Homo sapiens: one gene and its partners. The protein of the gene in region 4 purifies or fractionates together with the protein of the main gene of each other region. This does not show direct contact. Each region holds a gene or a part of one and is shown on either strand. Other genes may lie near its edges. The genes, in order: TMEM154, SOS2, SOS1 and SNX18.

Region 1 (7,511 bases), on a different chromosome or scaffold from region 4:
TGCAAAATGGGGGCAATAGTTTACCAGTGTCCTGCGGAGTTAAGCAAATTAATTCACATGAGGCACTTAGAAAAGTGCCAGTCATGGAGTGAGTACTCAATAAAAGTCTTCATCATCATCTCATCATTCCTGCTTAGAATGACTCTCACTGTAGGAGAATGCCTGCTGTGACCCAGTGACCTACAAAATAACACTTGGTCTCAGACTTCGGGGCAGCACGAACTATCAACCGTCTAGGAGGGAGCCACCCAGCAACTCTCTATCTTAAAAAAATGCACCTGTCACGTCCTCCGTCTTGTCCCACAGACTTCCAGTTTGTGCTTTTTCAGCTACTGGACTGTGAACTCCTCAAGTGCAGAGACTGCAATAGTAACAACCAGCATGACAGAATCCTAACCACACTCTAGGCACTCTCAATAGATACGAGCATTCGTATCTATTAACTCAAGTCGTTTTTCCAAAAGTCTTGTGGGGGACCTGGGGCACCAAGAAGTTAGGTAACCTGTCCAGAGGCACAGAAGCAGCTTTAAACCCAGACAGTCTGGCTCCAGGGGCCATTGGCTTTTCTGCAATATCTCACCTCCTCTGTGCCTGGTGCATAGTAGGCACTCAGGAAAATGTTTCCTGAATAAGTGAATCCCAGTGGCATCTTGAGGGAAGCCTTCTAGTATTTTCTCTGTCCAGGATTTCTGACTAGCTTCCTCTCCCACTGACCCTTCCACTGCAGCTGATAAATGCTCCCTCTCTTTTCAGGAAACCATTGCATGCTCCCTCTGGGCTGCTGGAGGAAGTCATCCTGTGTAACTCCACGCTGTGGTCCATTTCCAGACCCTTCTCACTTTCTCTTTCTTAGAAAGAGATAGGTGGAGACTCCAACACACTCCTCAAAATGAAAATTGCTTTGCTAGGCTGGTGGAATTCAAAATGGTTTTTTAAAAAATTTAACTGGATTTTATTTGCAATATACATTTTTTTACTCTGTGAAATATGTATATGTTAATTGTAGAAATTATAGCAACTACAGAAGTATACAAGGAAAGGAATTTAAAATGGAGGTTAGTTTTGCTCTTTACTCAAAATATTCTTTCATGTTAAATGATCCTTACAGCAAAAACATGAAAAGAATCTAAGTGATTAGACATTATGCATTATGGGAAGAAAAAATGTTTCCAGTTCTGCCTTGTTCCCATTTAGCTTCTCAGGGTCTTGACAACTGCCTTAACATCCTCCTCTCCTGCCCTAACTGGTGAATTGAGCCACAAGGTGAATACAGAGGCCCAGAAAGTTCCCTGATTCTCCCATAGTTTCCAAAGGGAAATGGGCAGAGTGTTCAGCCTGGATTAAAGGAATGCATGCAGAAAAAACCTGTACCTTCCATACCAAGAAGCAAATCTTTGAGGGTTTTCTACCTCCCCTTTCAGGATCCTTTCTCTTTCCTACAAAAAACGGTGCTGGTCACATACACCACAATATATTTTGTTCAGTTTTGCAAATGATTTTCAAGCAACATTTATGCTGTAAGAATATTAGACCTAAAATTAGGATTTTTCTGTTTTGGTTCTTAATATTTCTTCTTTGGTTAATAAAAACGTATTCACCCTATTTTTTTTTAAAAAAAACATATACTACAAGGCAATATGTATGTGTTGTAGAACATTTGGAAAATATTAAAAATGCACAAAGAAGGAAATGAAAAGCATTAGTAAAGCCACCATCCAGAGAACCTGGCTCATTCTCAACTTCTGACTCTCTAGATGTGGATAAGTAAGTACAGAGGGAAAGAAACATGTGCATGGTGGATACCTCTGCATTTGGCTGCTCCCGAGTGCCCGGCATCTGTTCCTAGCACTCTGATTCCCTTTAGAAACTGCTTTCCCCTGTATCTCCTCCCCACTGCCAACCACCTAACCACCCACCACCCACCCATCCACTCACCCACCTGCAGGAGTAGAGAAAAGTGTCAGGCCCACTCCATCCCTGTACGCATTTTTACTGGGTTAGGCATAAAACCCAGATAGTCTAATCAAATTCCTCTGGTGGTTGGGGGGGAGCTTTTAAATATTAGACCCAGGGAAGGATTTTCCCTTCTACTCTGGTGGTAAAGACAGAAGACTCCTGGAGCTCCCAGCTGCAATAATTACAGTCCTGTAGAGAAAGCTGGTCCCAGAGAATGAATGAAAGACAAAATACTGGAGAAGCCTGATGGGGTTTGAGTCCCTGGTCTCATTGTTACTCATGTCAGTTTTACCTGGTTCTGGTTGTCCCTGGAATTGGCAACTTCTTGCCCTTTCCAAGCATGATGACATGAGCCAATAAGTTTCCTTTTGGGCTGGACTAGTTTGAGTTGGACATTTTCTCACTGGAACCAAGAGTCTTGTTTAAACAAACACACCACTATTACACATACAGAGAGACAATTAGAAGTGTATTTATTTAGTATATATATAACACTATGCGTATGTGTGTGTGTGTGTGTGTGTGTGTGTGTGTATATATATATATATATATATTTTTTTTTTTTTTTTTAATGCAAAGAAAACTGTTGGGCCTCATGTCACTGGCTCTGGATAAGGCCAAATGTATGGGTGGAGCTGCCCCCTCCCGCGGTTGACCCAGTTAGCTCCTAGCATTTTCACGGCTCTTATGGGAGTCAGCATGTGTGCCCTGATGCTGTGGGAGTGTGGGTCCAAGTTTAGGGTCTGTGATTCACACTGTCTCTCTGGAACTGGGCTTTCTAACCTAACAGGGAAACTGGGCAATGCTGACAAAAAGAAGGTATTGGCTATCTAGTGTCCTTCCCAGCCTTGCACTCTCAGGCCACACTGACCCCTGTTCACTGTGCAGCCAGCGGCCAATAAAGGCAGACTGCATAGCTCAGCTCCGTTGTGGAAACCGCCTCTCCTCACCTCATTCCTGCCCCTTTCCAGTCTGCCTCTGTTTCCCTGTCACCTCTAATTTATATTCCAGATTTTGACCCCTCCCCTGCCCCTTTGGTTTTAACAACGAATCTTAGTTTTTGCTGTTTAACCCACATCCTCCCACCCTGCTTCTCTTGCTCATGCTCTGGACGCCCCTGGAACACTGATCCTGACGTGAGTTCATGTGGCTGCTTCCTTAGAATCTTCATCTCAGTTGCCGGAAGGCAGAGGGTCTAACAGTACAAGCCAAGAGGAAGGATGGGGTTCCCTTAGGAATGGGACAGGGTGGGTTATGAACAGAAAGGCACCTTCATGCCAGGTAAAAAGCAATCAATTGGCACTTGTAACAAGATGGAGGTATTTCTGCATGGATTTCATGGAGTTAAGAGGTAAGTGGGTCTTAGCCCATTAACTGGCTTAGTTGGTCTCAGTGACATTCAGAGGTGCTGGGGAACATCTCAGGAAGGATTTACAGTGCCTCTTATTTTGTGAATCTGTCTTCCTGCCCAGAGAAGAAACAATCCTTCTCTGTGCTTGTATTATCACCTAAAATAGATGCTTTCCTCTTTTTCTTAATAAAACTTGTATTTCCTTTCTCTGTGGACCCTCCAGAGGGCAAAGAAGAGAAGCTCAGATCTGGGTTGGAAAGAGCTGCTTCGAGCATTTTAATGATCAGTTAGGCTCCATCCCCAGTTTTCCTTCACCTTCCAAATTGGGGCCACTTTCTCTCCACCTCCACTTGCTTGTTAGTTCAATTATGATCGTTCTCTGCTTCCTTCCATATTGGATTTAATGTAGCTAAAAATACAATACAATACACACAATAGGACAATATGAAATAAAGATAAAGAATGACATCAGGATCCATTAGATGGAAAGTGAGGAAAATGCAATTAAACCAGGAAACTTGGGAGAAAATGGTGATGGAAGATGAACAATACCATATTTGAGTTCTGCACTCACTGATGATAAAGACTGATTAGGTACTTAAGGAAAGATGATATGTAACTCCTAGCTCATTAAATAATTGGTTTTTCTGTTATTATGGAGCGTGCAGTAGCGCCAAGCACTTTTCAGGATACAGAGATGAGTAAGACTGATCCCTATCCTCAAGGTGCTCAGTCTAATCTGCTCCCATTTTAACCTCATGCTTTGAGAGTAGTCATACATTTCTATGTGTCTGATCCACCTACAACCCATTCAGTCCCATGGCTCATGACTCATGTAGTTGGTAAAACTAGTTCTACCACCTACTACAGACTACTGGACCAGGGGTCTATGTCCAAGCCAAAGAGCACATAGGCACTGGGATTCAGGGAGGTCAAATATCCACAATGTTCCTTGACACGAAACTACCTAATATATTTCCTCGATATTGCATGAAGACACACCAATTTGGGCAGATCACATTTTCCAACGGTGCCTGCAACAAATCCCTTATCCCACTTGCTCTTCTCATAATGTGGCTTTGACACGCCTCCAAGGACAAGTGGGGTTTATGTCCTTTCCACCTTGAACCTAGGTAGACTTTGTAACTGTCTCAAACAATAAAGTATGGCAGAAGTGATGTGATGTGATTTCTGAGTCTAAATTATAAAAATACTATGCATTTCTACTTTGCTCTCTTGGGACACTTGCTCTTGGAACTCAGCTGCCATGCTGTGAAGAAGCCCAAGGAGTCTATGGAGAGGCCCACATCATAAAAGCCAAGGCCGCTGGACCACAGGCTTGGCTGGGCTCCTATCCGACAGCCAGAACAAACTTGCCAGCCATGTGAGTCATCTGAAAGTGGGACCCCCAGATCCAGTTGAACTGCCCAGCCAATGCCGTGTGGGAGAGAGTTGAACCATTTGCACTGAGCCTCATGCAAATTGCAGATTTGTGTGAAAAATAAATTGAGTGTTGTTGTTTTAAGCTGCTAAGTTTTGAGGTGTTTAAGCAGCAATAGACTGCTGAAACACCCATCCAATCAGGTTTTCTCTCTTGGGAAGTGTGAACACTGGATGCCTCCAGGGGTGGGCCACTTGAGCTCAGGCTGAATCCCAAGCAATGCTGATTTTGCTGTTCTCCACACTCCTATATACATTCTAGGCTGGAGTATCCTGCAAGCCAGCACGACTATGGCTGTGAAGAGGCAACATGCCAGTCTGCTTGAATGTCTTTCCAATTCTAGCACTAAACACACCTGTCTCTAACTTGAGAGTCCCTGGACATGCCTCTCCACTGCAACCTTAAAGAGGATCATATGCTGTTTATGTCAGCTCTAGTAAGTGGGAACTTTATTTTTTCACCTAGTGACCAAACCTTTACCAGCACTTAGATTTTAAAACTAGGCTTTTTACTTATCACCCCTATTCTAAGCCCTGGCTTTTTTCTCAGCATGATAGACCATTACTTCTGGGCCTAGGGTCCTGCCTTCACTGCCTCTGTTCCTTCTTATCTCAGCCTGCAGCCTCTGTTACTTCTTATCTCAGGCTATGCTCACCTTAAGGCATCCTTGACAATGACTGAAACTTTTTTTTGTTTGTTTTTTTGTTGTTTTTTTTTAGACAAGGCTGGAGTACAATGGTGTGATCTCATCTCACTGTAACCTCCGCCTCCCAGGTTCAAGTGATTCTCCTGCCTCAGCCTCCTGAGTAGCTGGGATTACAGGTACATGCCACTATGCCTGGCTAATTTTTGTATTTTTAGTTGAGACGGGGGTTTCACCATGTTGGCCAGGCTGGTCTCAAACTCCTGACCTCAGGTGATCCGCCTGCCTCGGCCTCCCAAAGTGGTGGGATTACAGGTGTGAGCCACTGCACCCCGCCAAGTGATGCCTTTTAAAACACTTTCCTACGGCTAGTTATTGGGGATGCAGTGCAGTGCAGTGATTAAAAACTTGTGCTTTGGAGTTGGAAAGACATGGAACAAGGTATAAGTTCTCTAAACCTACCTCATAAGTAATTACTAGGATTAAAATGAGATGATGTATGTTTAGTGTTTAGCACCTTCTGGCCAGGGTGGCTACCTCTTCAGATACCCAATATTCTTCCACCACTTTGTGAGACAGAATCCCTTATTGTTGAAAGTGATAATGTACCAACCATAGAGATGACTGTTCCCTGCTGCCTTGCAGAGATTGGCCAATGAGATGTAAGCAGAGTTGCTTCACTGGGCTGGCAGGAAAGCTATTTAAAAGTGGCTGACCTACTTGGGAGGCTCACCCTTGTGCTGGTTCCCTCTCTTTCCTTCTTGTGAATATCATGCTGGAGTTACAACCACCATTTTGGATCATGTGGCAACACAGGAAAGAAGCCCTGTACTAATGAAGGTGGGGAAGAGTTAGAAGGAACTTGTGTCCTAGATGACCAGGGAGCGGCCATATGAGCTCACCTTGAATCAGGAACTTAATTCCTAACTGATCCACATGATGAATGCTGGTCAAGATGCATCCTTTCCCTAACTCTGTGGGACTGCATGCTCTTTGGGTCCATGCTGTCTCCAGTCTGGCTAAGTTCTAGTTAAAACAGGGAGGAAATAGACTCTGCATCAGTTTCTAGGGGTAGATTGATGCCATAATGGACCAGGTTTAACTTTAGTTGAGACTTTTAGGAGAAATCTTCCTGCCTGTTGTTTGTCAATAATACTGACTGGTCTTTGTGAGCCGAAAGAATAAATCCTTATTCAAGGAAGTCTTCATGTTATCTACAACTTATGAATCTGCCTTTCAGCCTTACTTTCTTCTAATATCAAGGTGTGAGATGAGGTTAAAATTAAAGGCATGAAGAAAAGTGAGTAATCAGGAAAAAAAGAGGTTTTCTTGTGGATTTTTCCATTTTTACTAGAATTTTTTTTTTTTTTGAGATGGAGTTTCACTCTGTCACCCAGCCTGCAGTGCAGTGGCTCAGTCTTGGCACTCACTGCAAACCCCGCCTCCCAGGTTCAAGCAATTCTCCTGCCTCAGCCTCCCGAATAGCTGGGATTACAGGCGACAGCCACCATGCCTGGCTAATTTTTGTATTTTTAGTAGAGACAGGGTTTCACCATATTGGTCAGACTGGTCTCGAACTCCTGACCTCAGGTGATCCACGTGCCTCAGCCTCCCAAAGTGCTGGGATTACAGGCATGAGCCACCATGCCTGGCCTACTAGAAATATTTTTAAAAGTTATATTCTCATAAACAATTAAAATTTCATTCCTTCATTTAAAAATGTTTTGTAAGGAAGAATAAAGACAAGAATGTGTAATAATATATTTTAGATATGCAGAAAGTCTACTTAATTTTTAGGTTAGACAATTTTATACAAAGCAGGCCCCTTTTTGAATTGGTATTGTTTCGTTTATTTAAAGAATTATATGGATCAAAAGAGGGCAATTAAGAATTATGAATTATGAATTCTTTTTCATAGACACAGAAATTAAAAGAACTTTTCCTTAGAAAGATGCATAATTCACCTCTACTCTTAGTAAATAAAACATTTTAGTAAACAAATATCTTATCCTCAAATACACTTTTATTCTAAATATTGATATTAATTACATAGAAATTCACATAGAAGCTATTCATTCCTCATATCTTATAGTGCTTTATTTTTAAATTTATAAATGTTT
Region 2 (8,141 bases), on a different chromosome or scaffold from region 4:
CTGTATTCTCTACCTCCCATGCTTAGGTCATCCTCTCACCTCAGCCTCCCAAATAGCTGGGACTACATGTGCACATCACCACGCCCGGCTAATTTTTGTATTTTTTGTAGAGACAAGGTTTCTCCGTGTGGTCAGGCTGGTCTTGAACTCCTGGGCTCAAGTGATCTGCCCGCCTTGGCCTCCCAGTATGTTGGGATTACAAGTGTGAGCCACCTTGCCTGGCCCAGTAATTTCTGTGTAAGATGTTTGGAACACATTCTTTTAAGTATCTGTAGAATATTAGTTGGATATTCATTAATATGATGTTTATCAAATCTCACTGCTGAAAATTCAAGAAATATTTAGCAAATTATCAGATTATTATGCCAAACAGAGCCGTTGTTTAATATACTTCCATTACCAGGAAATCCCACTCTAAATATCCTCAATTTTGTTCTCCTTTACAGCTTATAATTATTACATGGTTATTTAAAAATGACACGTGGAAGAGTTTGAGCAGCCTTAAGACCAAGTAGACAATGAAAATCATACCTTTTTGGTAGGATATCACTACTGGTGATAATTTAGATATTTGGATAAACAAAAACAAGAATAAAACAGTTCTAATTAAGTGTTTGATGTCATCAACATTCATATTTATTAAAGAAATATTTTAGAGTGGAGCTGAGAAGACTTTCTGTAAGAAATCTTTAAAGCAGCAAAATAAGTGATTTTGCCAGTAACTTTCACCTGTAGAAGTCAGAATAACCAAGCACAGATCTTTTTTCAAACTTTCTATGATATTTTGACTTTGCTTCCATCCTTTCTATTGCTTAGTCTAGAGATTAAGGTATTACTTCTAATAATAGTCATTTACATTATTTATGTTGCTAATCTCTTGATGACAAGACCTCTACATGTGTCTTGAAATAAAATCAAATGGCTCTGTGCTTCATATAGAGACTAATTTCTAAGACATAAATAAAAGGTAATGGACAAAGTTGTCAAACAATAGCCAGTTAGTTCTTTGCTGAGGAAAGGGAACCATTGCTGAATGCTTTTGAGATTGCTCTTGGAATATAAGGAAAATTTTAATTTATCACAAAATCTCTAATAAGTTAAAGATCACAAAATAGATTTAAGTTTTTAAAAATTTTCTGAAGTGATCATAATTCCCCATATCCTTGCATAAATATATATTTATAAATACATAATATATATAATATCTATATGATGTTCCACTTTGAACTCTTCTTTCAAAAGATTAAAACAGTTTGAGGGCAGCCTGGGCAGCATAGTGAGACCCCATCTCTACAGAAAAATTAAAAAAAAAAATTAGCCAAGCATGGTGGCACACATCTGTAGTTCTAGCTACTTGGGAGGCTGAGATGGAAGGATCACTTGAGTCCAGGAGGTTGAGGCAAGGCTGCAGTGAGCCATGATCACCTCACCGTATTCCAGTTTGGGTGACAGAGTGAGACCCTGTCTCAAAAAAAAAAAAAAAAATCAAAACATTGGAGCACAATACAATACAATCTGAATTATTTATTATAAGTAAATTTGCTTTCTTTCTGAGAGTGAAATACAAGAGAACATTTTGGGGCAAATGAAATAGAACCAGAGTTTTAGAGATTAATAAGTCAGTTTCTAAATCTTCTAAAGATTGAGATAGAATTAATTTTCATGGTTTCTTGACATTTCATATTGTAAAAAATAGCAGTGGAATCCTTTGAGAGATGCTGTTTACGGAAAAGTTTATGATAGATTGAAGTGTTAAAAGTTAGTACCCTTGATTATGTTATATAACAAAGATTTGTAAACTTGAAATTGCTAAAACAAAGTAATCATTAGAGAATATGAAATAGTTTATAGTTACTTATTTTCTCTATTCATAGTTGCTAATGAATAAAAGTAAGTTGTAAGCTTCATGCTTTAGGTGTTTTAAACTTTTTAAATATGTTTGGAAAATGTGGCCTGGCACAGTGGCTCACACTTGTAATTTCAACACTTTGGGAGGCAGAGATGGGAGGATAGCTTGAGTCCAGGAGTTTGGGACCAGCCTAGTGAGACCCTATCTCTACAAAAAATAAAAATAAAAAAATTAGCTGGATGTGGTGGCATGCAACTGTGGTCCCAGCTACTCGGGAAGCCTTATGCCCAGGAGATCGAGGCTGCAGTTAGCCCTGCCACTGTATTCCACCCTTGGTGACGGAGTGAGTAAGACCCTGTCTCAAAAAAATAAAAAATAAAAATAAAATGTCCGAATGGTTTTTACAGTTGCTTTTTTTTTTCCTGATTACTATGCTCATGTTAGTTTATATCTGTATTGTGTTTATGTTTATAGAAAGAAGGTTGGGCCAGGACTGGTGGCTCATACCTGTAATCCCAGCACTTTGGGAGGCAGAGGCAGAAGGATAGCTTGAGCAGGTGTTCAAGACCAGCCTGGGAGACATAGCGAGACCCTGTCTCTACAGAAATTTTAAAAATTAGCTGGGTGTGGTGGCATTCGCCTGTGGTCTCAGCTACTTGAGAGGCTGAGAGTGGAGGATCATTAGAACCCAGGAGCTCAAGGCCACAGTGAGTGAGATCCTGTTTCAAAAAAAAAAAAAAAAAAGAAAGAAAAAGGGTTGGTTTGAGAGGGCAGTAGGTATATATAAAATTATAGCTGTTTTTATTAAGTATATATAAAATTAACTTAGAGTTGATAATATTTGTTGCTGCTTTTTCTATTACTAGAAAGTTGGGGGAAGAATCAAACAATGCAGTTTTGATTTTTCTTTCTGTTTTTTCTTAGCAATTGAAAGCATGTAGTGAAGAACAAGAAGACAGAGAATGTTTGAACCAAGCTATTACTGCTCTCATGAATCTCCAAGGTAGCATGGACCGAATTTACAAGCAGTATTCACCTAGACGTCGACCTGGGTAATTCCAAAGTGTTGAAAACGTGAATGCCTCTGCTTACTTCGCTGTCTCTGATGCCTGGTTTTCAAAGAAGTGTGATTTATTGTGATAGTTACATTATTGAAAGTTGTGCTTGTCATACTTTTATATACTTTTATGTTGGTCTTTTACTCTCTTTTTTCCTTTTCCTTTCCTTTTTTTTTTTTTGAGAAGGAGTCTCTCTTGCCCAGGCTGGAGTGCAGTGGTGTAATCTCAGCTCACTGCAACCTGCAGCCTTAGCCTCCTGCGTTCCAATGATTCTCCTGCCTTCGCCTCCCAAGTAACTGGAACTACAGGAGCCCACCACCATGCCCAGCTAATTTTTGTATTTTTAGTAGAGACGGGGTTTTACCGCGTCGGCCAGACTGGTCTCAAACTCCTGACCTCAGCCTCCCAAAGTGCTCGGATTACAGGTGTGAGCCGCTGCGCCCAGCCTTTTTTTCTTTTTTTTAAGAGACAGGGTCTCACTCTGTTGCCCAGGCTGGAGTGCAGTGATGTGATCTCAGCTCACAGCAGCCTCAACCTCCTGGGCTCAAGCAGTCCTCCTGCCTCAACCCTCTGGAGTAGCTGGGACTCGAGTAGCTGGGTGGCACATGCCAACACACCTGCCTAATTTTTGTATTTTTTGTTGAAATAGGGTTTTGCTATGTTGCCCAGGCTGGTCTTGAACTCCTGGGCTCAGGTGATCTGCCTGCTTTGGCCTCCCAGAGTGTTGAGATTGCAGGTCTGAGCCACTGCACCTGGCCAACCCAGCCTAGTCTTAAGATTAGCATTGTTGGCTGGGCACGGTGGCTCACGCCTATAATCCCAGCACTTCGGGAGTCCAAGGTGGGCAGATCGCCTGAGGTCAGGAGTTTGAGACCAGCCTGGCCAACATGGTGAAACCCCATCTCTACTAAAAATACAAAAATTAGCCAGGCGTGGTGGCAGGCACCTGTAATCCCAGCTACTCGGGAGGCTGAGGCAGGAGAATCACTTAAACCTGGGAGGGGGAGGTTGCAGTGAGCCAAGATCGTGCCATTGCATTCCAGCCTGGGGGACAAGAGCTCCAAAAAAAAAAAAAAAAAAAAAAAAAAAAAAAAAAGATTAGCATTGTTATATTATTAGGATAGACTTAATAAATGTTTAAAAATATAATCTATGAAAGAAATTTAGGATTTTTTGTAATTTTAGTTCTTATAGAGCCAGTAGTACTTCTCTTTCATAATAATGAAATTGAGGGCTGTATTATTTAGTGGCAAAGTTAGAACTAAATGCTGTGCGTAAAAGCTACTGTTTGGTTATTTAATATTTTACTCACTTGATTTGAGATGGTTTATGCTTGAAACCATTTGGGTTGCTAGCTGTTGAATAAGCTATATTGTTTGTTTTTTCTAGAGATCCTGTTTGCCCTTTTTATAGTCACCAATTAAGAAGCAAACACCTGGCTATCAAAAAAATGAATGAAATTCAGAAAAATATCGATGGATGGGAAGGCAAAGATATTGGACAGTGTTGTAATGAATTCATTATGGAGGGACCATTGACAAGAATCGGTGCCAAACATGAACGGCATATTTTTCTGTTTGATGGCTTAATGATCAGTTGTAAACCTAATCATGGCCAGACTCGGCTTCCAGGTTACAGTAGTGCAGAATACAGGTTAAAAGAAAAATTTGTCATGAGGAAAATACAAATTTGTGATAAAGAAGATACTTGTGAGCACAAGCATGCATTTGAATTAGTATCCAAAGATGAGAACAGCATAATATTTGCTGCTAAGTCTGCTGAAGAAAAAAACAACTGGATGGCAGCCCTTATTTCTCTTCATTATCGTAGTACTCTAGATCGAATGTTAGATTCAGTATTATTGAAAGAAGAAAATGAGCAACCACTGAGATTACCAAGTCCTGAAGTATATCGTTTTGTAGTAAAAGACTCTGAGGAAAACATTGTTTTTGAAGACAACTTGCAAAGTAGAAGTGGCATCCCCATTATTAAAGGAGGAACTGTAGTGAAATTAATTGAAAGGTTAACATATCATATGTATGCAGGTATGTGAAACTCATTACAACTGCTGACCTAGGGCCTGGGACCCAAAAGCTTTTTAAGGATGCTCAAAAATATTTGAGGCTTGGGGAAAAAATGGATTGCCTCCAAAATATAAAAATACTGCAAAAACAAAAGGAATAAATAAGAGAAGGAATTAAAGGTCTAAAAATGTAATATTGTTAACTTCATTAATTATTGAATAAATATTCATAAAATATGCATATTCATGAATTTTTTTTTTTTGAGACAGAGTCTTGCTCTGTTGCCCAGGCTGGAGTGCAGTGGCGCTATCTCTGCTCACTGCAAGCTCCACCTCCTGGGTTCACGCCATTCTCCTGCCTCAGCCTCCCGAGTAGCTGGGACTATAGGCGCCCGCAACAATGCCCGGCTAATTTTTTTTTTCTTTATTTTTAGTAGAGATGGGGTTTCACCGTGTTAGCCAGGATGGTTTCGATCTCCTGACCTCGTGATCCGCCCACCTCGGCCTCCCAAAGTGCTGAGATTATAGGCGTGAGCCACCTCACCCAGCCATATTCATGAATTTCAAATTTGAAAACAATCCTCGCTTATTAAGGATATACCATAGTATATTCTCTATGTCAGTATTTCTCTATGTATGGCAGGGATACCATGGTATCCTGCCAGTACCATGATTGTTAGGAAAAGCCACAATCTGAGGAGCCAAAGTAAAAAGAAAAAGGGAGGAAGGCCTCCAAATATGGTACTTTGAGTTAATTAAACTGAATACATTAAACATGAAACCTATTTTATGCTCTGCCTTTTCAGATCCCAATTTTGTTCGTACTTTTCTTACCACATATCGTTCATTTTGTAAACCACAGGAATTGCTGAGCTTACTGATTGAACGGTAAGAAAAATATGTATTTCAGTTATATTGACATTTTGTGAAAAATTAACTGTATTTTGTAAAGTGCCTAGTACCTAATAAATACTCAAGTTAATTATTGAACATATTTTATTTGGCATTAAATTGGCAGTATTACTATTCTCTTCAAATGGAGTACTCCCTAAAATCTGTTTATAAACACAGATCTTTTCAGCTCTTAGAAATATTTCAAGTGGTAATCAGAAAGACTAATTTAGAGGATGAAAGCACTATATTTTAATGAATATTGTTCTGTGTAATAAAATGATATTTTCTTAAAAGAGACTTTTCTACTTACCACTATTTTTTTTTTTGGACCGTAGACTACTTTGCCAAATACTTTCCACTTTTAAAACAAACTTGTTATGAAAACTTTCAAAACACATACAAGAGCAGATACAAGAATATAATAAACCCATTTATTCATCAACCACCTTCAGTAATTATCAACTCATTGTTTCATCTGTTTCCCTACAAATTTAAACACCCCACCCCATGATTATTTTGAAGTAGATCCTAGACAACATAATTCATCTATAAATATTTTTCTATGTATCTCTAGAAAATACGGGATCATTTTTAATAATCAGATATCATTATTAAACCTAAAAAATCAGCAATTCCTTTATTATGATTAACTTTTAAAAATTAGTGTTGGGTTGAATTTGTTTTACCTAGTATTATAGTGGCATTTTAAATGTTTTATAGTTTAAAATGTAGAATCTGGACTCCAGAATGATTTTTAGTTTTACGTTTTAAAACTTACTAAAACTTATTATTATACCAAAGCTTATTAACTGTATTATCAAGATATAATTCTAGATCTCTATCACTATGTTGTTTTATCAAACTAAATTTACCAGACTGAGTCAGTGTAATGTGCTATGAGGATCTACTTAGTTGTTTCCATGTCCAGAATAAGGAAAGCACACGTTAGACTTATAGTTTAGCTGTATTTCCTATGTTTGAGCAAGGTTTTTTATCTTTATCTTATCCACTTAGGTAAATTATTTAAATATTGTTAAATATTCGGTTTTGGCCCTCTCTTTGAATTTGTACTCATTTAAATAAATTTATTAGCCTACTTTCATTTTAATAATATAAATATTAAAGACATTGTTAGATAAGCAATTTCTGTCATGTTCTTTAAATTCCTTATGAATTCTTTCCTTGGCTCTTTTCCCTGGACCTTTTCTGTATTATCAGTGCTAAAAGACAAAACTTTAGTTTTTATAAAAGTAAGAATACAAAACGTCAGTTTTGTATAGCCAAAGGACAGTTTTTTGTAGTATATCATACCTCAAGGGAAGTTTAACAGTAATCCACTTTTCGTGGAAGTGGTAGGAAAGAAGGTTGCTTGCTGTTTTCCTCCTTGTATTTTCATTATGTATGAACGGATTTTTCTCCTTTTGCTTTTCTTCTTAGGTTTGAAATTCCAGAGCCAGAACCTACTGACGCAGACAAATTGGCAATAGAGAAAGGCGAGCAGCCAATCAGTGCAGACCTTAAAAGATTTCGCAAGGAATATGTCCAACCAGTACAACTTAGGTTTGGCTTGAATATTTTTTATATATATATATATACACATATATATACACACACACACACATTTTATGTGTCAGTTTTCAATATATAGTTAACACAAAAGCTCTCAGCTTTTAATTCAAATATAGGGAATATTTTTAACTTCACAGCAGTTAAGTTAAACTAAAAGAGTTCTTTCTCAGTGAAGCTATTCTTAAATACCCTGAAGAAATTCAAATATTTAAATATCCTATGTTTGCATCACATATCTCTGGCATGTGATATGTTATGCTTACGTATCAGGATACCTATTTTTTATTGTAAGTAAAAATTATAAAATTTCATGTGAGCTTTCCTGCTGTCAACCTTTTTTCACACTTTTTTCCTTCATTTCCCTTTGCGATCATACAGTAATCCTGGCTTTTTTTACAATTTATAATATTTGTGGAAGTTCTAGCCCTTTTCCCACTTATCTCTCACAAAATATATAGACATTTGTTAGTTTAATTGCAATAATTTCTAAAAATGTGTTTGATTGTAGAAGCTTCCAGTTAATAAATACTACTGTGTGCCGGGGATTACCCTAAATGCTTTATCTTTTTTATCTCATTCTTACAACATGATTACTATTCCTACTTTATATATAAGGAAATTGAAACCTAGCAAGGTGAAGTAATTTGAGCTAAGTTATGTAAAGGGAGTGGCAGGACAAGATTCAGACTCATGTCTGACTTTCTTTGCGTGTGTGTGTGTGTGTGTGTGTGTACGTACCACTAAGCAT
Region 3 (8,141 bases), on a different chromosome or scaffold from region 4:
GCTCTGCTCGCCGTCAGTATTCACTCCTCATTCTCCTGGTTTCCCCCGCTCCTCCGATTAACAGGGGCTGGTGCACATGCTACCAATTTCAGGGGGGTTTTGTTTTGTTTTTGCAGCGTTCGAGATTCTTGGTGCTGTCATTTGGCTTGTTAAGAATTTTTAGCCTTTGTATGTTTAAGTTTGCTACATTGTTACCTGAAGTTACATACCCCCGATCTGTGCTTTTAAATGTTTTAGTATAATTAGGAAGTGTTCTTACGTTTTTAAAGCTTCTAAAGCAGCAGTGTGACAACCAGACTATTTTTGTTTTCTTTTCTTCATTTACCTTTTCTGTAAAGATTGCTTTACTCTTCTAATAGTGTTTCTAAATCCCAGTTTCTTGCTGCTCAAAGAATGTTTCATGCTAACTGCTTCTACTAAGAATGGAGATTATGTTTTACCTTTTATGCTAAACATTAAAAGGTGTCTGATATTTCTCAAAGGCCAGTAACTTTTACTTTCCCTTTTGCCCTGTTCTCCTCCGGTCCCTCTTGCTGTCTTACAGTGGAAACTATTTGGTTTTTCAGGAGAATTTGCTCATATATTTCTGGCTTAAATTACGGACATTTTCCCCTTCAAGTGTCTGACTAGTCACAAACATCTATGTAATTTTTTTTAAAAAACAGAAGAAAAGATGCCATATATCTTACATACTTTACTCCTTAGAAATCCCTTCAGGCTCTCACTCCTTACTTTTGCTTTACTTGCAAGTTTGACTTCTTAGCTTGTAATGGAAGGGGTGTAGGAGGTCTCTGTGATGCTAGAAGCTGGTGTCCGGATAGAGTAAGGGGAGACACGGAAATTGTTTAAAAACGTGTAAAGGAACTCATAAAGCATTGCCAAATAGGGGCCATTTTGCTTAGAGGCAAAAGCAGCTCCTTTCCCAGGGGAATCACCAAGGTATCAGCTGAGGATCCTTTGAAGCAGTGGAAAGAATATTGTAGGAGTTGACAGACGTTGTTTAATTCTGCCACACTGGTGGCCCTTGCTGAAATCTGTCCACAAAAGCATTTTGTTTGGCTGGCATAGTGTTGTTTTATTTTTAAATGTAATTAGTTGCTAATATTTGAAAATGGGAGATATTACATAAAACCTGAATTTTCGGCTTTTCTTGAAGAATAGGAAGGTCTTGTCATTTAGGGCCTGTATTCAAGCGAGGCACTAAACTGCTGGAGTTGAGTAAATGGCTCCCTTCTTTAGACAGGTCATGTATCTCCACCTTACCACAGCCCCCACTTGTCCTTTTTGCATATTTACATAAAACAGCTTTTGACTTTAAGTTAGAGATACTTTTGCAGTAGAAGTGATAGGAGGAGGTGGAAGTGTACATAATCTAGCTGATATGTAAGGTTCTTCCAATTCTTATTTAAATAGCCACTAACAATGATTCTAAACAAGATTGAAAATACAGTATGTTTCATATCTGGATATGCTGTTGGTAGCTCAAAACCTACGTTTTTACTTGCCTGCTGGACATTTCATGTGGATATCTCCATATCTTGATTTCTTCCTTTGATTTGTTATTGAATTATTCGTAGATACATCCGACTTGTGTTCTCTTACTCTTACCTGAGGCTCTTTGGATATGCTAGTCCCTTCATCCTTCTTTGCCTGGTCCAACACTACTCATCCTTCTAGACTCACTCAACCTGAACTGTCAAATCATCAGGGCTGAGTTGGATATTACTCCTTTGTTTTCTTTTTGCACCCTGTCCTAGCTCTGTGAATTTTAAGTTCCTATTTACTTGCCTATAACTAGATTGGATGCTCCTTGAGAACAGGGATGATATCTTACCCACATTTTATTCCCCATACTTATAGTGCTTGACATCTGGTAGGCACTCAATTTGAATAAATAGGTGAGGGGATATACAAACTAAAACTATCACTTCTCTCCTCCACCTGTCATTTCAGTTTTTCTTCTCGATTAATGGCTTTATTGTTACATTTGACTGGTTTAAAATGTTGGGGTCATCTCTGGCTTCTTTGTATTACTGTGCACACTCAGGTAGAGCCTGTATGTTCATTTCCCTTTGACATGTTCTTCTAGTCTATTCCTCCTCCGACTTCTCTAATTGAGTCTCCTTTGTCAGACTACTGTGATAACTTCTTAATGGGGTTCACTGGCCCCCACCTCACCTTCTGTTTTTCAAATCTCACCAGTTATAGGACACTTCTGAACATGTCACACTCAGAATTGTTGATGTCTTTTGAGTTCAACCTATGCTAAAGTGCACTTTTTAGCATAGAATTAACAGCAATTGATATTTGGCTTCATCCTGCTTTTCTGACTGGATTGTCTACCATAACCTTTTATCTCCTTTTTGCTTTAGCCAGTCCGGACTGCTACTTTTCCTGAATATGGCTGGAATGTCCCACTGTATCTGTTTCACCGCATCTATGAGTCTAAGTCCTATCTTATCTATTGCACAAATATATCATGCCTACTATAGACCAGGTATTGCCCTTGACACTCAGGCTAAAAAGGTAAATGACAGGGCCGGGCGCAGTGGCTCACGCCTGTAATCCAGCACTTTGGGAGAGCAAGGTGGGCGGATCACGAGGTCAGGAATTCAAGACCAGCCTGGCCAACGTGGTGAAACCCCATCTCTACTAAAAAATACAAAAATTAGCCTGGCGTGGTGGTGGGCACCTGTAATCCCAGCTACTCGGGAGGCTGAGGCAGGAGAATAGCTTGAAACCGGAAGACGGAGGTTGCAGTGGGGCGAGATTGCACCACTGCACTCCAACCTGGGCAACAAGAGCAAAACTCTGTCTCAAAAAAAAAAAAAAAAAGTAAATGACATAATCAGAAAAGACTAAATTAGAACATGATGGGAAGTGGCAGGGCATGTCTGGAGAGACAACTGGTTTATGAACAGTTTTTATATATGTTAAGCTAAGGAATTTAAATTTTTTCTTGGGTAATTAGAAGCCATTGATAAAGTTTCTTTTGTTTGTTTTTGTTTTGTTTGTTTGTTTTGAGACAGAGTCTTAACAGGCTGGAGTGCAGTGGTGCGATCTTGGCTCACTGCAGCCTCCACCTCCTGGGCTTAAGCTATCCTCCCACCTCAGCCTCCTGAGACTGTAGGCACACTGCCACATCCAGATAATTTTTGTATTTTTTGTAGAGATGGGGTTTCACCAGGCTGGTCTTGAACTCCTGGGCTCAAGCCATCTGCCTGCCTCAGCTTCCCAAAGTGCTAGGATTACAGGGTGAGCCACTGTGCCCAGCCAATAAGTTTTAAGTAGGGGAGTAACAGCACATTTTAATTTTAGAAAATTCACTTTGGCCATAGAATGGAAAATGGTTTGGAGAAGAATGAGACGTAAAGTGAGGAGAAAAGTTAGAAGCCTAGTTTAATAGTCCAGTCAAGAGATAATACACATTTGAACTAAGGGTGCATTTGAACAAGGATGGAAATATGGATGTGGATTTTATTTGAAAGAAGTTTACAAGGCAAAATTGACAGGATCTAGTAACTCACTGAGTGATTGGGGGAATGGTAATGGAACAGGAATAGTCTTGTTTCTGACTTGATTGTCTTTAGTCAGGATAGAGAATGTAGGAGAAGCTCTTAGGATGGAGAGAGGAGTGGCATAATAAGATGATTTTTGGAAATGTTGACTTAAAAGTTTGGGTTATTCAAGTGAACTTCTCCAACTGGCTATTGGTTGTTGGTATCTGATTAAGCAGATTTGGAACTTCTAGATGTGTAAGTAAAGCCATAAATATAGATGAAGCCTCTACAAAGACTTATACATGAATGTTCATGGCAGCTGTTTTCAGTCAAAAACTGGAAACAATCCAATGTTCGTCAGCAGGTGAATGAATAAGCAAATTGTGATACAAACAGTGGAATACTATTGGTTGTTGGTATCTGATGAAGCAGATTTGGAACTTCTAGATGTGTAAGTAAAGCCATAAATATAGATGAAGCTTATACAAAGACTTATACATGAATGTTCATGGCATCTCTTTTCAGTCAAAAACTGGAAAAAATCCAATGTTCGTCAACAGGTGAATGAATAAGCAAATTGTGATACAAACAGTGGAATACTACTCAGCAATAAAAAGGAACAAACTGGCTGGGTGTGGTGGCTCACACCTGTAATCCCAGCACTTTAGGAGGCCAAAGTGGGAGGATTACTTGAGCCCAAGAGTTCCAGGCCAGCCTAGGCAACATAATGAAACCCTGTCTCTACAAAAAACTTAAAAAATTAGCCAAAACATTTAAAAAAATTAGCCAGGTGTGGTGGCATGAGCCTGTAGTCCCAGCTGCTTGGGAGGCTGAGGTGGGAGCATTGCTTGAGTCTGAGAGGTCAAGGCTGCAGTGAGGTGTGATTGTGCTATTGCACTCCAGCCTGGGCAAAAAAATGAGACCCTGTCTCAAAAAAAAAAAAAAAAAAAAAAAAAAGAGAGAGAACAAATTTGATACAAATGACAACATGGCTGAATCTCAAAATAATTATACTCAATGAAAGAAGGGAAACCAAAAAAGAGTATATACTATATGAGTCTACTTATAGAACATTCTAGAAGGTGCAAACTAGTGCAGATCAGTGGTTGTTTAGGGAGAGGCTTTTTATGTTTACTTATCTTGATTGTGCTGATGGTTTCAGGGGTGTGTACATATCCTGAAATTTTTCAGATTGTATATTTTAAATATGTGCAGTTTATTGTATGTCAGTTGTACCTCAATGAAGGTATTTTAAAAAGTAGATGAGACCACACGCTGAAAATGATTTTAGTAAGACTGAAAAAGGGCTGGCATAAGAAGTGGGGGAAGGGAGTGGGAAATAGTGTATAGGGAGATAGCAGAGGAAAAGGAATGATGTAAGGAGACCGAGAAGCAAGGAGTCAGGCAGAAGGAATGAAACCCTAGTGTCTGAGAAGTTGAGAGAGGAATGCTTCAAGAAAAGAGTTGGCTGTGTGCGATGGCTCACACCTGTAATCCTAGCATGTTGGGAGGCCAAGGCAGGTGGATCACCTGTGGTCAGGAGTTTGAGACCAGCCTGGCCAACATAGTGAAACCCCTGTCTTTACTAAAAATACAAAAATTAGCCTGACGTGGTGGTGCACGCCTGTAATCCCAGCTACTCGGGAGGCTGAGACACAAGAATCCTGGGAGTTGGAGGCTTCAGTGAGCTGAGATCACACCACTGTACTCCAGCCTGGGTGACAGAGCTAGACTCTGTTTCAAAAAGAAACAAAAACAAATCAGCCGGGCCAGGTGGCTCACGCCTGTAATCCCAGCACTTTGAGAGGCTGAGGCGGGGGATCACCTGAGGTCAGGAGTTCGATACCAGCCTAACCAACATGGAGAAACCCCATCTCTACTAAAAATACAAAATTAGCTGGGCGTGGTGGCGCATGCCTGTAATCCTAGCTACTCAGGAGGCTGAGGCAGGAGAATTGCTTGAACCCAGGAGGCAGAGGTTATGGTGAGCTGAGATTGTGCCATTGCACTCCAGCTTGGGCAACAAGAGTGAAACTCCATCTCAGAAAAAAAGAAAAAAAAAAAAGAAAAGAACAAAAAGAAAAACAAAAAACAAAAAAAATTAGCCAGGCTTGGTGGCACGCACCTGTGGTCCTGGCTACTCAGGAGGCTGAGGTGGGAGGATTGCCTGAGCCTGGGATGTTGAGGCTGAGGTGAGCCATGATCGTGCCATTGCACTGCCGTCTGGGTGACAGGGTAAAACCCTGTCTCAGAAAAAGAAAGAAACAAAAATAGAAAGAAAAGAAAGAGTCATTGATCATACCAGGCTATAGAAAAGTCAAAGGGCCTGAAAAGTGTTAAGTTTGGCAGCTAAGGGGTCATTGGTCACTATGTCAGAGCAGTTTTATTGTGATAGTAGAAGATGGAAGAACATGGGAAAAGTAAGAATAGCAAGGGCTGCTGACCTTTTTGCTCAGATTATTTTTTTCTAGAAGCTTGGAAAGGAAGGGAAAAGAGATAGTGCTGAGGCAAAAAAGAGATTCAAGATTGGGTAAGACATTTTTGCTTCTTGCTTGGAGATGACAAAAACTTACTAAGAGCCTTTGAGGAAGGAGCTAATAGAGAATGCTGGTGAAGATTCAGGAACACAAAGCAATGGGATTTGCCTTGAACTGTTTGGGAGATAAGGTAAGCACTTCACCTGTGTTCTCATTTAATTCTCATAGGATACTATTACGGCTTCCTTTTTACAGGAGAGAAAATCAAGGTTTGGAAAGTTAAATTTGCCCATGTAATTTAGTTACAGAATCTTTATTTTTATTTTTAAAATTATTTTATTTATTTATTTTTGCACCATGGCCTCCCTCCCCCAACTCTAAAATCTGTATTTTTAAACACTATATTGCTGGGCATGGTGGCTCATGCTATTGACGCCAACACTTTGGGAGGCCAAGGCAGGAGGAGTTTGAGAACAGCCTAGGCCACATAGTGAGACCCTGTCTCTACAAGGGAAAAAAAAAAAAAAAAGAAGACAGGTATGGTGGTACATGCCTGTAGTCTCAGCTACTCAGGAGGCTGAAGTGGGAAGATTGCTTGAGCTCAGGTGTTTGAGGCTGCAGTGAGCTATGATTGGGCTACTGCACTCCAGCCTGGGTTACAGAGTGAGACTGTGTCTCTAAATACATTAATGAATAAAACACTAAGTGATGCTACCTCTGGCAGGGGTGATGACATCTTTTCTTATGAGATACAGGAGGGAAAGTGATAAAGATGGGTTTGTAGGTTGGGGAGCAGGGAGTTCATGCTAAATAATCACTTCTATTTTCTTTTCTTTTCTTTTTTTTTTTTGAGACAGAGTCTTGCTCTTGTCGCCCAGGCTGGAGTGCAGTGGTGTGATCTCCGCTCACTGTAGCCTCCACCTCCCAGGTTCCAGCAACTCTGCCTCAGCCTCCCCAGTAGCTGGGATTACAGGCGCACTCCATCACACGCAGCTAATCTTTTGTGTTTTAGTAGAGACAGGGTTTTACCATGTTGCCCAGGCTGGTCTTGAACTCCTGAGCTCAGGCAGTCTGCCCGCCTCGGCCTACCGAAGTGCTGAGATTACAGGCATGAGTCACTGCACCTGGCCAAATCACCTCCATTTTCATGATGAAATGAAAGGCAAATTTTTTTTACAGAGTGAAGAAAAGGAAAGTAGTAAGGACTTTAGAAGGAATAATGAAGTCTGGGAATTGCTGCTGTGGAGTGTAGAGGAGCCAACCAGTGCCTTAGAAAGGAATTGCAAGCCAGGTGCGGTGGCTCATGCCTGCAATTCCAGCACTTGGGAGCCTGAGGTGAGAGGATCACTTGAAACCAGGAGTTCAAGACCAGCCTGGGCAACATGGTGAAACACCGTCTCTACCAAAAAACAAAACAAAACAAAAGCCTGGCATGGTGGTACGCACCTGTAGTCCCAGCCACTTGGGAGACTGAGGTGGGAGGATCCCTTGAGCTCAGGAGGCTGATGCTGCAGTGAGCCATGGGAAAGAAAGAGCAAGAGAGAGAGGGAGAGAGAGGAATTGCTCAGCAGTGCTGAATGTGGAGACCATAAACTCAGAGTAGGGTTGATCTGGTGGTTGTGAGATTTTCCTCCAATAGCGCTTATCTGTTCAGGTAAGCCGGGAGAGAAGACAGTTGGTTGCAGGTAGCGGCAGTAGAGATTAAGAAGATAGGGATATTTCAAGTGATAGAGAGGAAGTAAGGGTATATAAGAGAAATAATGGATTGGAAGAAAAATTAGGGCTCCATGGATTCAAAATCTTGGTGAGTTAGAAGAGAAGGATAGTGGGAGTAGATAGGGGATGTGATTAGAGATGATGACAATTGTTATATTTTGGAGTTTTAAGATTCCAGAGATAGAGGCCAAGGAGGGCAGATCACTTGAGCTCAGGAGTTCAAGACCAGCCTGGCCAACATGGCAAAACCTCACTTCTACCAAAAATACAAAAATTATCTGGATGTGGTGGTGTGTGCCTGTAGTCCCAGCTGTTCGGGAGGCTGAGGTAGGAGAATCGCTTGAAACCTGGAGGTGGAGGTTGCAGTGAGCTAAGGTTGTGTCACTGCACTCCAGCCTGGGCAACAAGAGCGAAACTCCGTCTCAAAAAAAGAAAAAAAAAAAAAAAG
Region 4 (8,141 bases):
AAGTACCTACTGCTCTACACATGAGCTCAGTGCTCCGTGTGTATCCAAGTCAAGCAACAAGGTGAATGTATTCTCTGGATCTTGTGCTCTGAATTAAGCAAACGAGACCCCAGTAAACATGTTATAACTAAAACTTACTAATGAGGAAAATGTGTGTGTGTGTGTGTGTGTGTGTGTATGTGCGTGTATGCATGCGTAAGTTTAAACACCAAGAATCAATATAAAGTGAAATCATGAGGTATACAATATTAATTCTCTGGCACTTTAAGCATTTTCAAACTTCCCCTCCCCTCCCCAATGAATTATGTAAAGTCATTTCATAAACACAAAACTCTAAGACTTTTAAATCACTCACATGTTAATGACTTCATCCATAAAATACATCTAGATTCTATCTTTATTTCCTGTACACTTTAGACTGTTATCCATCATCATATAAATGGAAAAACAAAAACATCTTATAAATCTATTTCAAGATCAACCAAGTAGCTACTGAGTGCCTACTTCATTAATTCAGCAAGCATTCATTAAGTACTTGCTATGCATGTATAAAACAGTAGTTAACAGCTATACAACACAGGAACATAAAAACATAACCCACACACTAATAACTGAGCACCGCACAGACAATTATTCACAAAAGGACTACAATCCAAGGGGGATACTCCAAGGAAGGGGACTAGACCTGAAGCTAGAAAGTGCTTGTGTTGGGGTGGGGAGACATGGAGCAGAATGCATGAGCCTGATCTACCTAAAAGGAGAAAACTCAATTCCTGATTGCTGCTCCCCACCCCTGTTCTGACAATTCTTATTGTAGGCCAGGCCAAACAGGCCAAAATTACAGTCACCCTTGATGACTCCCCTTTCTCTTGCATGTCACATCCTTCACAATCCCATCTCTCAGGAAAACCTGTTGATTCTACCTCCAAAATATAGCTGGAGGGGGACCCCCCCCCCCGGCTCCCCGACCACCACCTCTGTTGTCTCCACTCTGGTCCAGGCCACCAGCATCTCTCACCTGGATTACTGGAGTATTTCCTACTAGCTCCCTGCTTCCATCCACCTTTGACTGCCACACGCCATTCTATTCTCATTGCTCTGGACTAAGTCTGTTAATATGTCCAGTTGGATGTCATACCTTGGCTCAAAATCCTGTAATTGCTTCCATCTGACTCGGGCTTTCATTCCAAGTCCTAACAGTGACCTGCAAAGCCTTGCAAATCTGACTTTCCATGACCTCATCTCCTAGGATCCTCTTAACTTCAACCACCTGGCCTTGCTGTTCCTCAACCTGCCTGGCACATGTCCACCCCAGGGCCTTACTTTAGCTAAACCCTCTGCCTGAAAAGCTCTCCCCCGAGATACCTGCTTGGACGACTCTCCTGACTCCAGAGTGATTCAGGTCTCTGCTTAAATCTCACTTTCTCAATGAGACCTACTTTGAGCACTCTTACTAGTACTTCATCCTGCCTCCCATGCCCTCTTTCCCTGCTCTACTGTTTTCTCCTAGCACATACCAAACTCCAACATACATCAAAACTTACCTCCTGTGTTTGTTTTTCATTGAGTGTCTCCACCCTGCTAGACTGCAAGCTCCACAAGGGTGGGGATCTTTGTTTTGGCCACTGATGCAACACTAGCATCTTGAATAGTGCCTGGACGATGATGGGTACATACGTATTTGTTGAATAAAATCTAGTTTATCTTTTAGAGGGTCCTATGAATAAATCTAATGATTTTATCTCCCCTTCCTTCACTGTCCCCTTACCTGCTAAATAACAATTTATTTAGCAGAAGAGGAAAGTCAAATCACAGTGACAGATAAGTCATAAGAAAAGGTACAGAAATGACAAGTGAACTAAAACTCATTCAAATTAAAGTTTAATCAAGCTATAAGATCAATATCAGAGGCTGGGCACGGTGGCTCACACCTGTAATCCCAGCACTTTGGAAGGCCAAGGTGGGTAGATTGCTTGAGGTCAGGAGTTCAAGACCAGCCTGGCCAATATAGTGAAACCCCGTCTCTACTAAAAAAAATAAAAAAGTTAGCCAAGCATGGTGGCACATGCCTGTAATCCCAGTTACTCGGGCGGCTGAGGCAGGAGAATCATTTGAACTCGCGAGGCAGAGGTTGCAGTGAGCCGAGATCGCATCACTGCACTGCAGCCTAGGTGACAGAGCAAGACTCCATCTTTAAAAAACTGTCATAATTTATCTCTTTGGTAGTCCTATTAATTTGGGTCAGAGAGAAGTCGCTCCAGCTGTCTACCATACCACAGCTTCAGAACACCCGGGAACCCTCACCAGGCAGCAGCAGGCCAGGTATTAATCACTTTTACATTCGAAGTTCCTAGTGAGGTAAGCCTGCAATGCGTGATTGCTGATCTGAACTAAACGTGCATAAATGTTCTTTCACATCAACTGATAAGGGCTTTTCATGCTCCCGTAAAACAGTCACATAAGTAGACAGAGAACACTATTAAAATCAGCCTGAAACAATGTCTAAAAGTTTCCTGGATACTTAAGACTACTCTTATTTTTTTAAAAAAGTCAACTAACAAAATAGTACCTAGGAAATAATGAACCTCACTTTTACAGATGAGGAAACTGAAGCTCAGAAACATTAAGTGATCTGCACCAGAACACGTGATTTGGGTTAGAGGGGAGCCAGGAGGAGACAGTTTACATACACTCTTCAATGTGAACAACAACAAACGATTGACTCCAAACAACATCTACATTTATCCCAGTTGCCATTACTTCCGGTGTGCAATACAGGGCGAACTGATTAAAGCAGATATTTAATTGCTAGACTGAAGACTCCTTGAGCTTTTGTACTTTTGCCTACAATTCTGGTGGCAATAGGTTGCCAGGAGGGATGATAAGATTACTGGAATTGTCCTTCAAAGGAGAGCGCCCTTAATTTTTTTTTTTTTTTTAAAGAGACAAGGTCTCACTGTGTTGCTCTGGCTGGATTTGAACTCTTGGGCTCAAGTGATTCTCCTCCCTCAGCCTCTCAAGTAGCTGGTATTAAAGCCATGTGCCACCATGCCTGGTTGTCATCTCCTTTTAAATTCACCCATCTATTTTTCAAAAATAAACATTTAGTGACTAGCTACTATGAACTATAACATTTAATTCTCATGCTGACCTCGTGAGGAAGTGCCCCCACTTGGCCAAAGATAAGTGAGCGTTACGCAGGTTAAAATAGCTTGTCCAAAACTCCTCCATGCCCACACACTGGCCCTCCAGAGCCCATGCTGGTCCCGACAGGCCAGCTCCCACTGCGATGAGGCTCTGCACCCACGGCTTCTTGGCTTGGCATGCTGCCCCTTCACTGGCACAGCTTCCTCAGCAGACCCAGCTCAGTCCCACCCCTTGGTGCAACTCCTGGGGCAGACTGGCCCATCCACCAGGCTCTCAGAATCCTGGCACAAGGAACTGCCGAGGCTGGCTGACCTGTCTCTGTAGCTAGTCAAATAACTCACTTAAGACCAGAGGCCTACCCAGCCCTCCTGCAGACACCGGCAGAGCGGCCAGATTCTAGTCTGTGTTGTATAAATATGAGACATGATACACGTCTGCCTTCCGGATATAATCTTGTCAAACAGAGCTCAGCATTACTCTGCCACTTTATAATCCTTTAGTTAATGATACAGAGCTTCAAAAATATATGGCAAATTAAATCTAACTTGATATTTAAACTTTGATTTAAAAATACATGGGGTAATACAATAATAGTTTTTTATTCAGCCCAAAGAGAAGGAACATATTAAATAGTTCAAGGGAAGTGTTTGTAAGTGAATCACAGAACTTCTCACTTGTTTGGGTTCTGGCATTATGCTTAGAAGTCCTAAGATGGCCAGACAGGACAACATTGCTGAACAAGGAAACCTCATAGGCTCCCTGAGTTACTGGGAGGAGGGTGGGAGTGCAGGTCCTCTGCCTCCCTTCGGTCCCACTGTGGTCGGCATGACTCTGAAGGCTATGTGGCTCAAAAAAGAAGTCTGAGAAACCCCTGACGGTGTGGTATGAGCGGTGCCCACACCCAGTTTCGTGCCCAAGACTGTCCTTGGGCAGTCACATTTATATTTTAACCAAGGAACTGAGTCGTGTATTTCGAAAGCACCAACGGTCACCTTATTTTCACTAAGAAAACACAAACTGGGGCAAAGGGTAAGCCCCAGACCTGTTCTCTTTTTAGAGACATGAGGTCTTTTTAGAGAACAGCTGGGGGTAAATGCAGGGGAGAGGAGAAATGGGTTCAACTAAAGATGGAGTGAAAACAAAAAGAATGAACAGCCTCAATTTCTAGCCCAGAGGTTTCAAAAATAAGGATGAATTTGCAAACAGCCCCAACTTCTTAGAGCTTTTCTCTGTATTCCTGGCACCACCCTTTCAGGGCTATTTTTAGCTACAGGAGAATGGGGAGCAGACAGGGAAGGGTCTCCGTGTGGCCCAGCCTTACCTTGTGTGCCCTGCTGGGACTCCAGCTATCTTTAATTAATGTCTGAAGGACATCAGGCCAACTCTACTAGTGGTAAAAGGAAGCACAATGGTGAAATTCTACCCAGCAAGACTGACAGGCCCACTACTGGTATACCATTCCTGAGGTCCTGGGGCTTTTATTGAAAAAAGGCTCCATCTGGAACATTTAGAGAGCGATGAAGTAGAGTCTGTATATTTAAGAGTACAGAAAACAGGACTGCCTATTTACTTATCTAGTCCTGCCTCCCTGCTTCACACAGCCCAAATCGACAAATCAATTTAACACTATTTTACACCTTTTCTCTAGAAGAAAGACATTTCACTTAAAGGAACTCCCTCTAGCCATTTTTATTTAGTCCAAATTCCTAAACAAGGATGAAACCAGTATTTCTCATAATCTTTTACAGTCTTCCTTTTAGCAATAGTCGCAAGAGGTAAACCTAAATCTTTTAAACCTCAACTTGCTGCCACCTAGATTTAGCTTTATTAAATATTAGAGATTGATCATATCTTTGGAAACAAAACTGAATATGCCAAGAAACTAATAATAAAATATATTCCTCAGTACTACCCAAACTCCTCAACATCAACACTATAAAGGTATACTGCAGACAGGCATGATAAGGAGGGAGAAGATAAAATGCTATCACTTAAGAAAAAAAAAATCAAGACCACAGGGGTTACATGTCAGTGACAAACATCTGCACACTGCCTAGTCAGGGATTGATGAGCTACCTATGAACAAAGAACTTAAAGGACTCCTATTAGGTCAAAGCAAAACACAAATAAAATTCCAATAGATTCTGAATTCCCATCTAATGTACCGCAGACTACAGCAAACTACCGTCTTTCTTCGCTCAACTCCATTAACCTAAATAGTTAGACTCCATCCGTTGATGAAAAAAAATCAAAATTCCAGAATTCTCTTTTGGCTGAAGGAAGTATATCGCTTTCTTCACTTCTGCAGAAAGTATGTACACTAAAACCATTATTAGTTTAAAGAATGGGTTCAGTATTTAGTATAGTCAGGAAAATTTCAGCCCACCAACATTTAAGAGTATTTGAGTTTTCCACCCTCATTTTGCAGCTGGGTTCTCACCAGGATGGCCTCAGACATCCATCCCGTAACCAATGTGTTTTCTGAATGGGACATAAAGGCACACTGCAAGAGATGCTCACGCTACTGAAATGTCACTCAGGTTGAGTGCTTGGGAAATTCAGCAAAGAAGAATCTAGCAGGACTTGCTTCCCCCTTCCCAGTTTTTATTAATTAAGCCTATATGGGAAGGAGGAGGTGCAATGAGATGACCAAGTAAAAATAAAGCTATCAGGAAACTATATTAAAATATAATAATTTGCTGGAGAAACTTACGATGGGGTTGATAGTTAAACTGCAGCCAGCAGTTTAACACAGCACTGTCCAATAGAACTTTCAGCACTGATGGAAAAGTTCTATCATTTCTGTTGACCAATATTCAGTTCCTTAGTCACATTAGCCATATTTCAAGTGTGTAACAGTTGGGGTTGGGGAGGTGACGGAATTGAGATGCTCTTTACAACCACAAGTCCTGAATACGCTCAGAAAGCTTTTATCCTGGCTTATGATGTTTGTCTCATCTATACTCCTAAAAATGGCCTACACTAGCATCCTTGATAAACACTGGTTATAGGCAAATGCTTTTAGCCTTATGTATCGCACACTGTCACTTTAAATGGTAGTATTTTCTAAAGATGTGTCATCCAGGGACACAGGTTCACTGTACATTACACACCAAGGTTACAGCAGAAACAAACTATACTGAATATCAACTGCTGTTCTTTCCAAAGTTCCTAGAGATTATGTTTAGTGCTCTTGAATCTGTTAAGCCACATAAAATGATACTGGTTTTAATGAAGGAAGTTTTTCAAATCCCAAGTGACTAGAGACAAATCCAGTTCTATAATTTAAAAAAGATAAACTAGGCCGGGCATGGTGGTTCACGCTTGTAATCCCAGCACTTCGGGAGGCTGAGCTGGAAGGATTGCTTGAGCCCAAGAGTTAGAGACAAGCCTGGGCAACATAGCAAGACACCTGTCTCTACAAAATAAATAAAGAAGTAAATAAGCTATATATTTTTTGTTTTGGACACAGGGTCTTGCTCTGTCACCCAAGCTGGAGGGCAATGGTTCAATTATGCCTCACTGCAACCTCAAATTAACTCCTAGCCTCAAGCAATCCTCCAGCCTCAGCCTCCCTAGTAGCTAGGACTATAGGTATGAGCCACCATGCCACGCTAACTTCTTTATTTTTTGTAGACAAGGGAGTCTCCCTATGTTGCCCAGGCTGGTCTCGAACTCCTGGCCTTAAGGCAATCCTCCTGCCTCGACCTCCCAAAATGCTGGGATTACAGGCGTGACCCTGGCCATAACCAGATGGTTTAATAGACTAAGTAGACCATTGCTGTAAACTCAAAATAGATATTAGAACACACACCATACCTTTTCTAATATATAATTTCAAAAGCAGGCCATTTGACAAAGCCTGAGTGCATGGTGTGATTGACAGTGAATGAACTGATGCCAACCTAAAGTAGACAGACACCAGCGGCCCAGCACACATGTCCAAGTGTCTGTACTTGGTTCCATCCTTTCAACTGTTCACCAGTAATTTGCACAAACTCACAGAAATGTGTAAAAGGGCAGCCAGCATAGGTCCAGAATGATGTAACACAATGGAATTTAAATGCTAAATCCCTCCATTAAAGGCTCACAAAGGCAGTTCCACCAACACCAGTCAAAAAAGTCAAAGATTCATAACAATTTATGTTTTAAAAAAAGGCATAGGTAATGTAAATACAGGTTTAATACAGGCCAACAGCAATATGATTGCACAAAAAACGAATTCAATATTAGACTGCATTTACAAATCGCAAATTGCCAAGAAAGTTACTACTGTCTACTAAAATTAGTACTGATGTCCAGGGTACTCCCTTTCAGCGGCAGCAACAAGACTGAAAACGTTTGATCATTCTCCCAGCAAGCCCCTTCCCCCATAGGAGTCAGAAGACCAGTCACGCATTTGGAAGGGGAAGGAGAGAAGCAGAGAGGAAGGAAGCGAGACTGCTGTCTCCAAATGTCTGAAGGCGGTCCCAGGGAACAGAAAGACAATCAAGGGAGGCAAACTTCAGTTCAATACAAGAAAAGACATGCCAGAGATCAGGGTTGCTCATAAACGGACTGGCCCACCAGAAAGGCAGTGAGCACTTCACCAGTAAAGGCCAGACCCGCTGAGGAAACAGGGACAGTAGGTTTCCCTGCTCAGGAGTAGGTTTCCCTGCCCAGCCGCCCCTACACTGGACTTTCACAGGCAAGACTGCCTCCCTAACTCCCACACCTCCCCATTCTCTCAATCAAGGCATTATATGAGAATGCACATTAGTAAGAAATGTTAAGACAAGCACTACTGCTATATATTTTTTTAATTTGCAAATTCTGGTGCTTTAGCAAAGGTCAGAGACACTAACAACTATTAATAACTCATGAACTCTGATAGTTGGACAGCTAACTCACTGGGATACCAGCAACGCTGCTCTCAGATCCAATACTCAGATTATATTCATTCTATGTAGTTTCCCTAAACAATTTTCCTAAACAACGTTCTCAATTTCAGTACA

The links.
Region 1: the proteins of SNX18 (region 4) and TMEM154 purify together in Homo sapiens (co-immunoprecipitation; one large-scale study listed by IntAct). This does not show direct contact.
Region 2: the proteins of SNX18 (region 4) and SOS2 purify together in Homo sapiens (pull-down; one study listed by IntAct). This does not show direct contact.
Region 3: the proteins of SNX18 (region 4) and SOS1 purify together in Homo sapiens (pull-down; one study listed by IntAct). This does not show direct contact.

Annotation. Positions count from the first base shown.
Region 1 is NC_000004.12:152,615,073-152,622,583, forward strand, and holds the end of TMEM154 (transmembrane protein 154 precursor), read right to left. Parts: 3' UTR 3,556-7,511; downstream 1-3,555.
Region 2 is NC_000014.9:50,156,242-50,164,382, reverse strand, and holds part of SOS2 (son of sevenless homolog 2), read left to right. Parts: intron 1-2,773; coding exon 2,774-2,901; intron 2,902-4,296; coding exon 4,297-4,952; intron 4,953-5,736; coding exon 5,737-5,818; intron 5,819-7,261; coding exon 7,262-7,384; intron 7,385-8,141.
Region 3 is NC_000002.12:39,111,723-39,119,863, reverse strand, and holds part of SOS1 (son of sevenless homolog 1), read left to right. Parts: intron 1-8,141.
Region 4 is NC_000005.10:54,520,176-54,528,316, reverse strand, and holds part of SNX18 (sorting nexin-18), read right to left. Parts: exon of another isoform or gene 7,271-8,141; intron 1-7,270.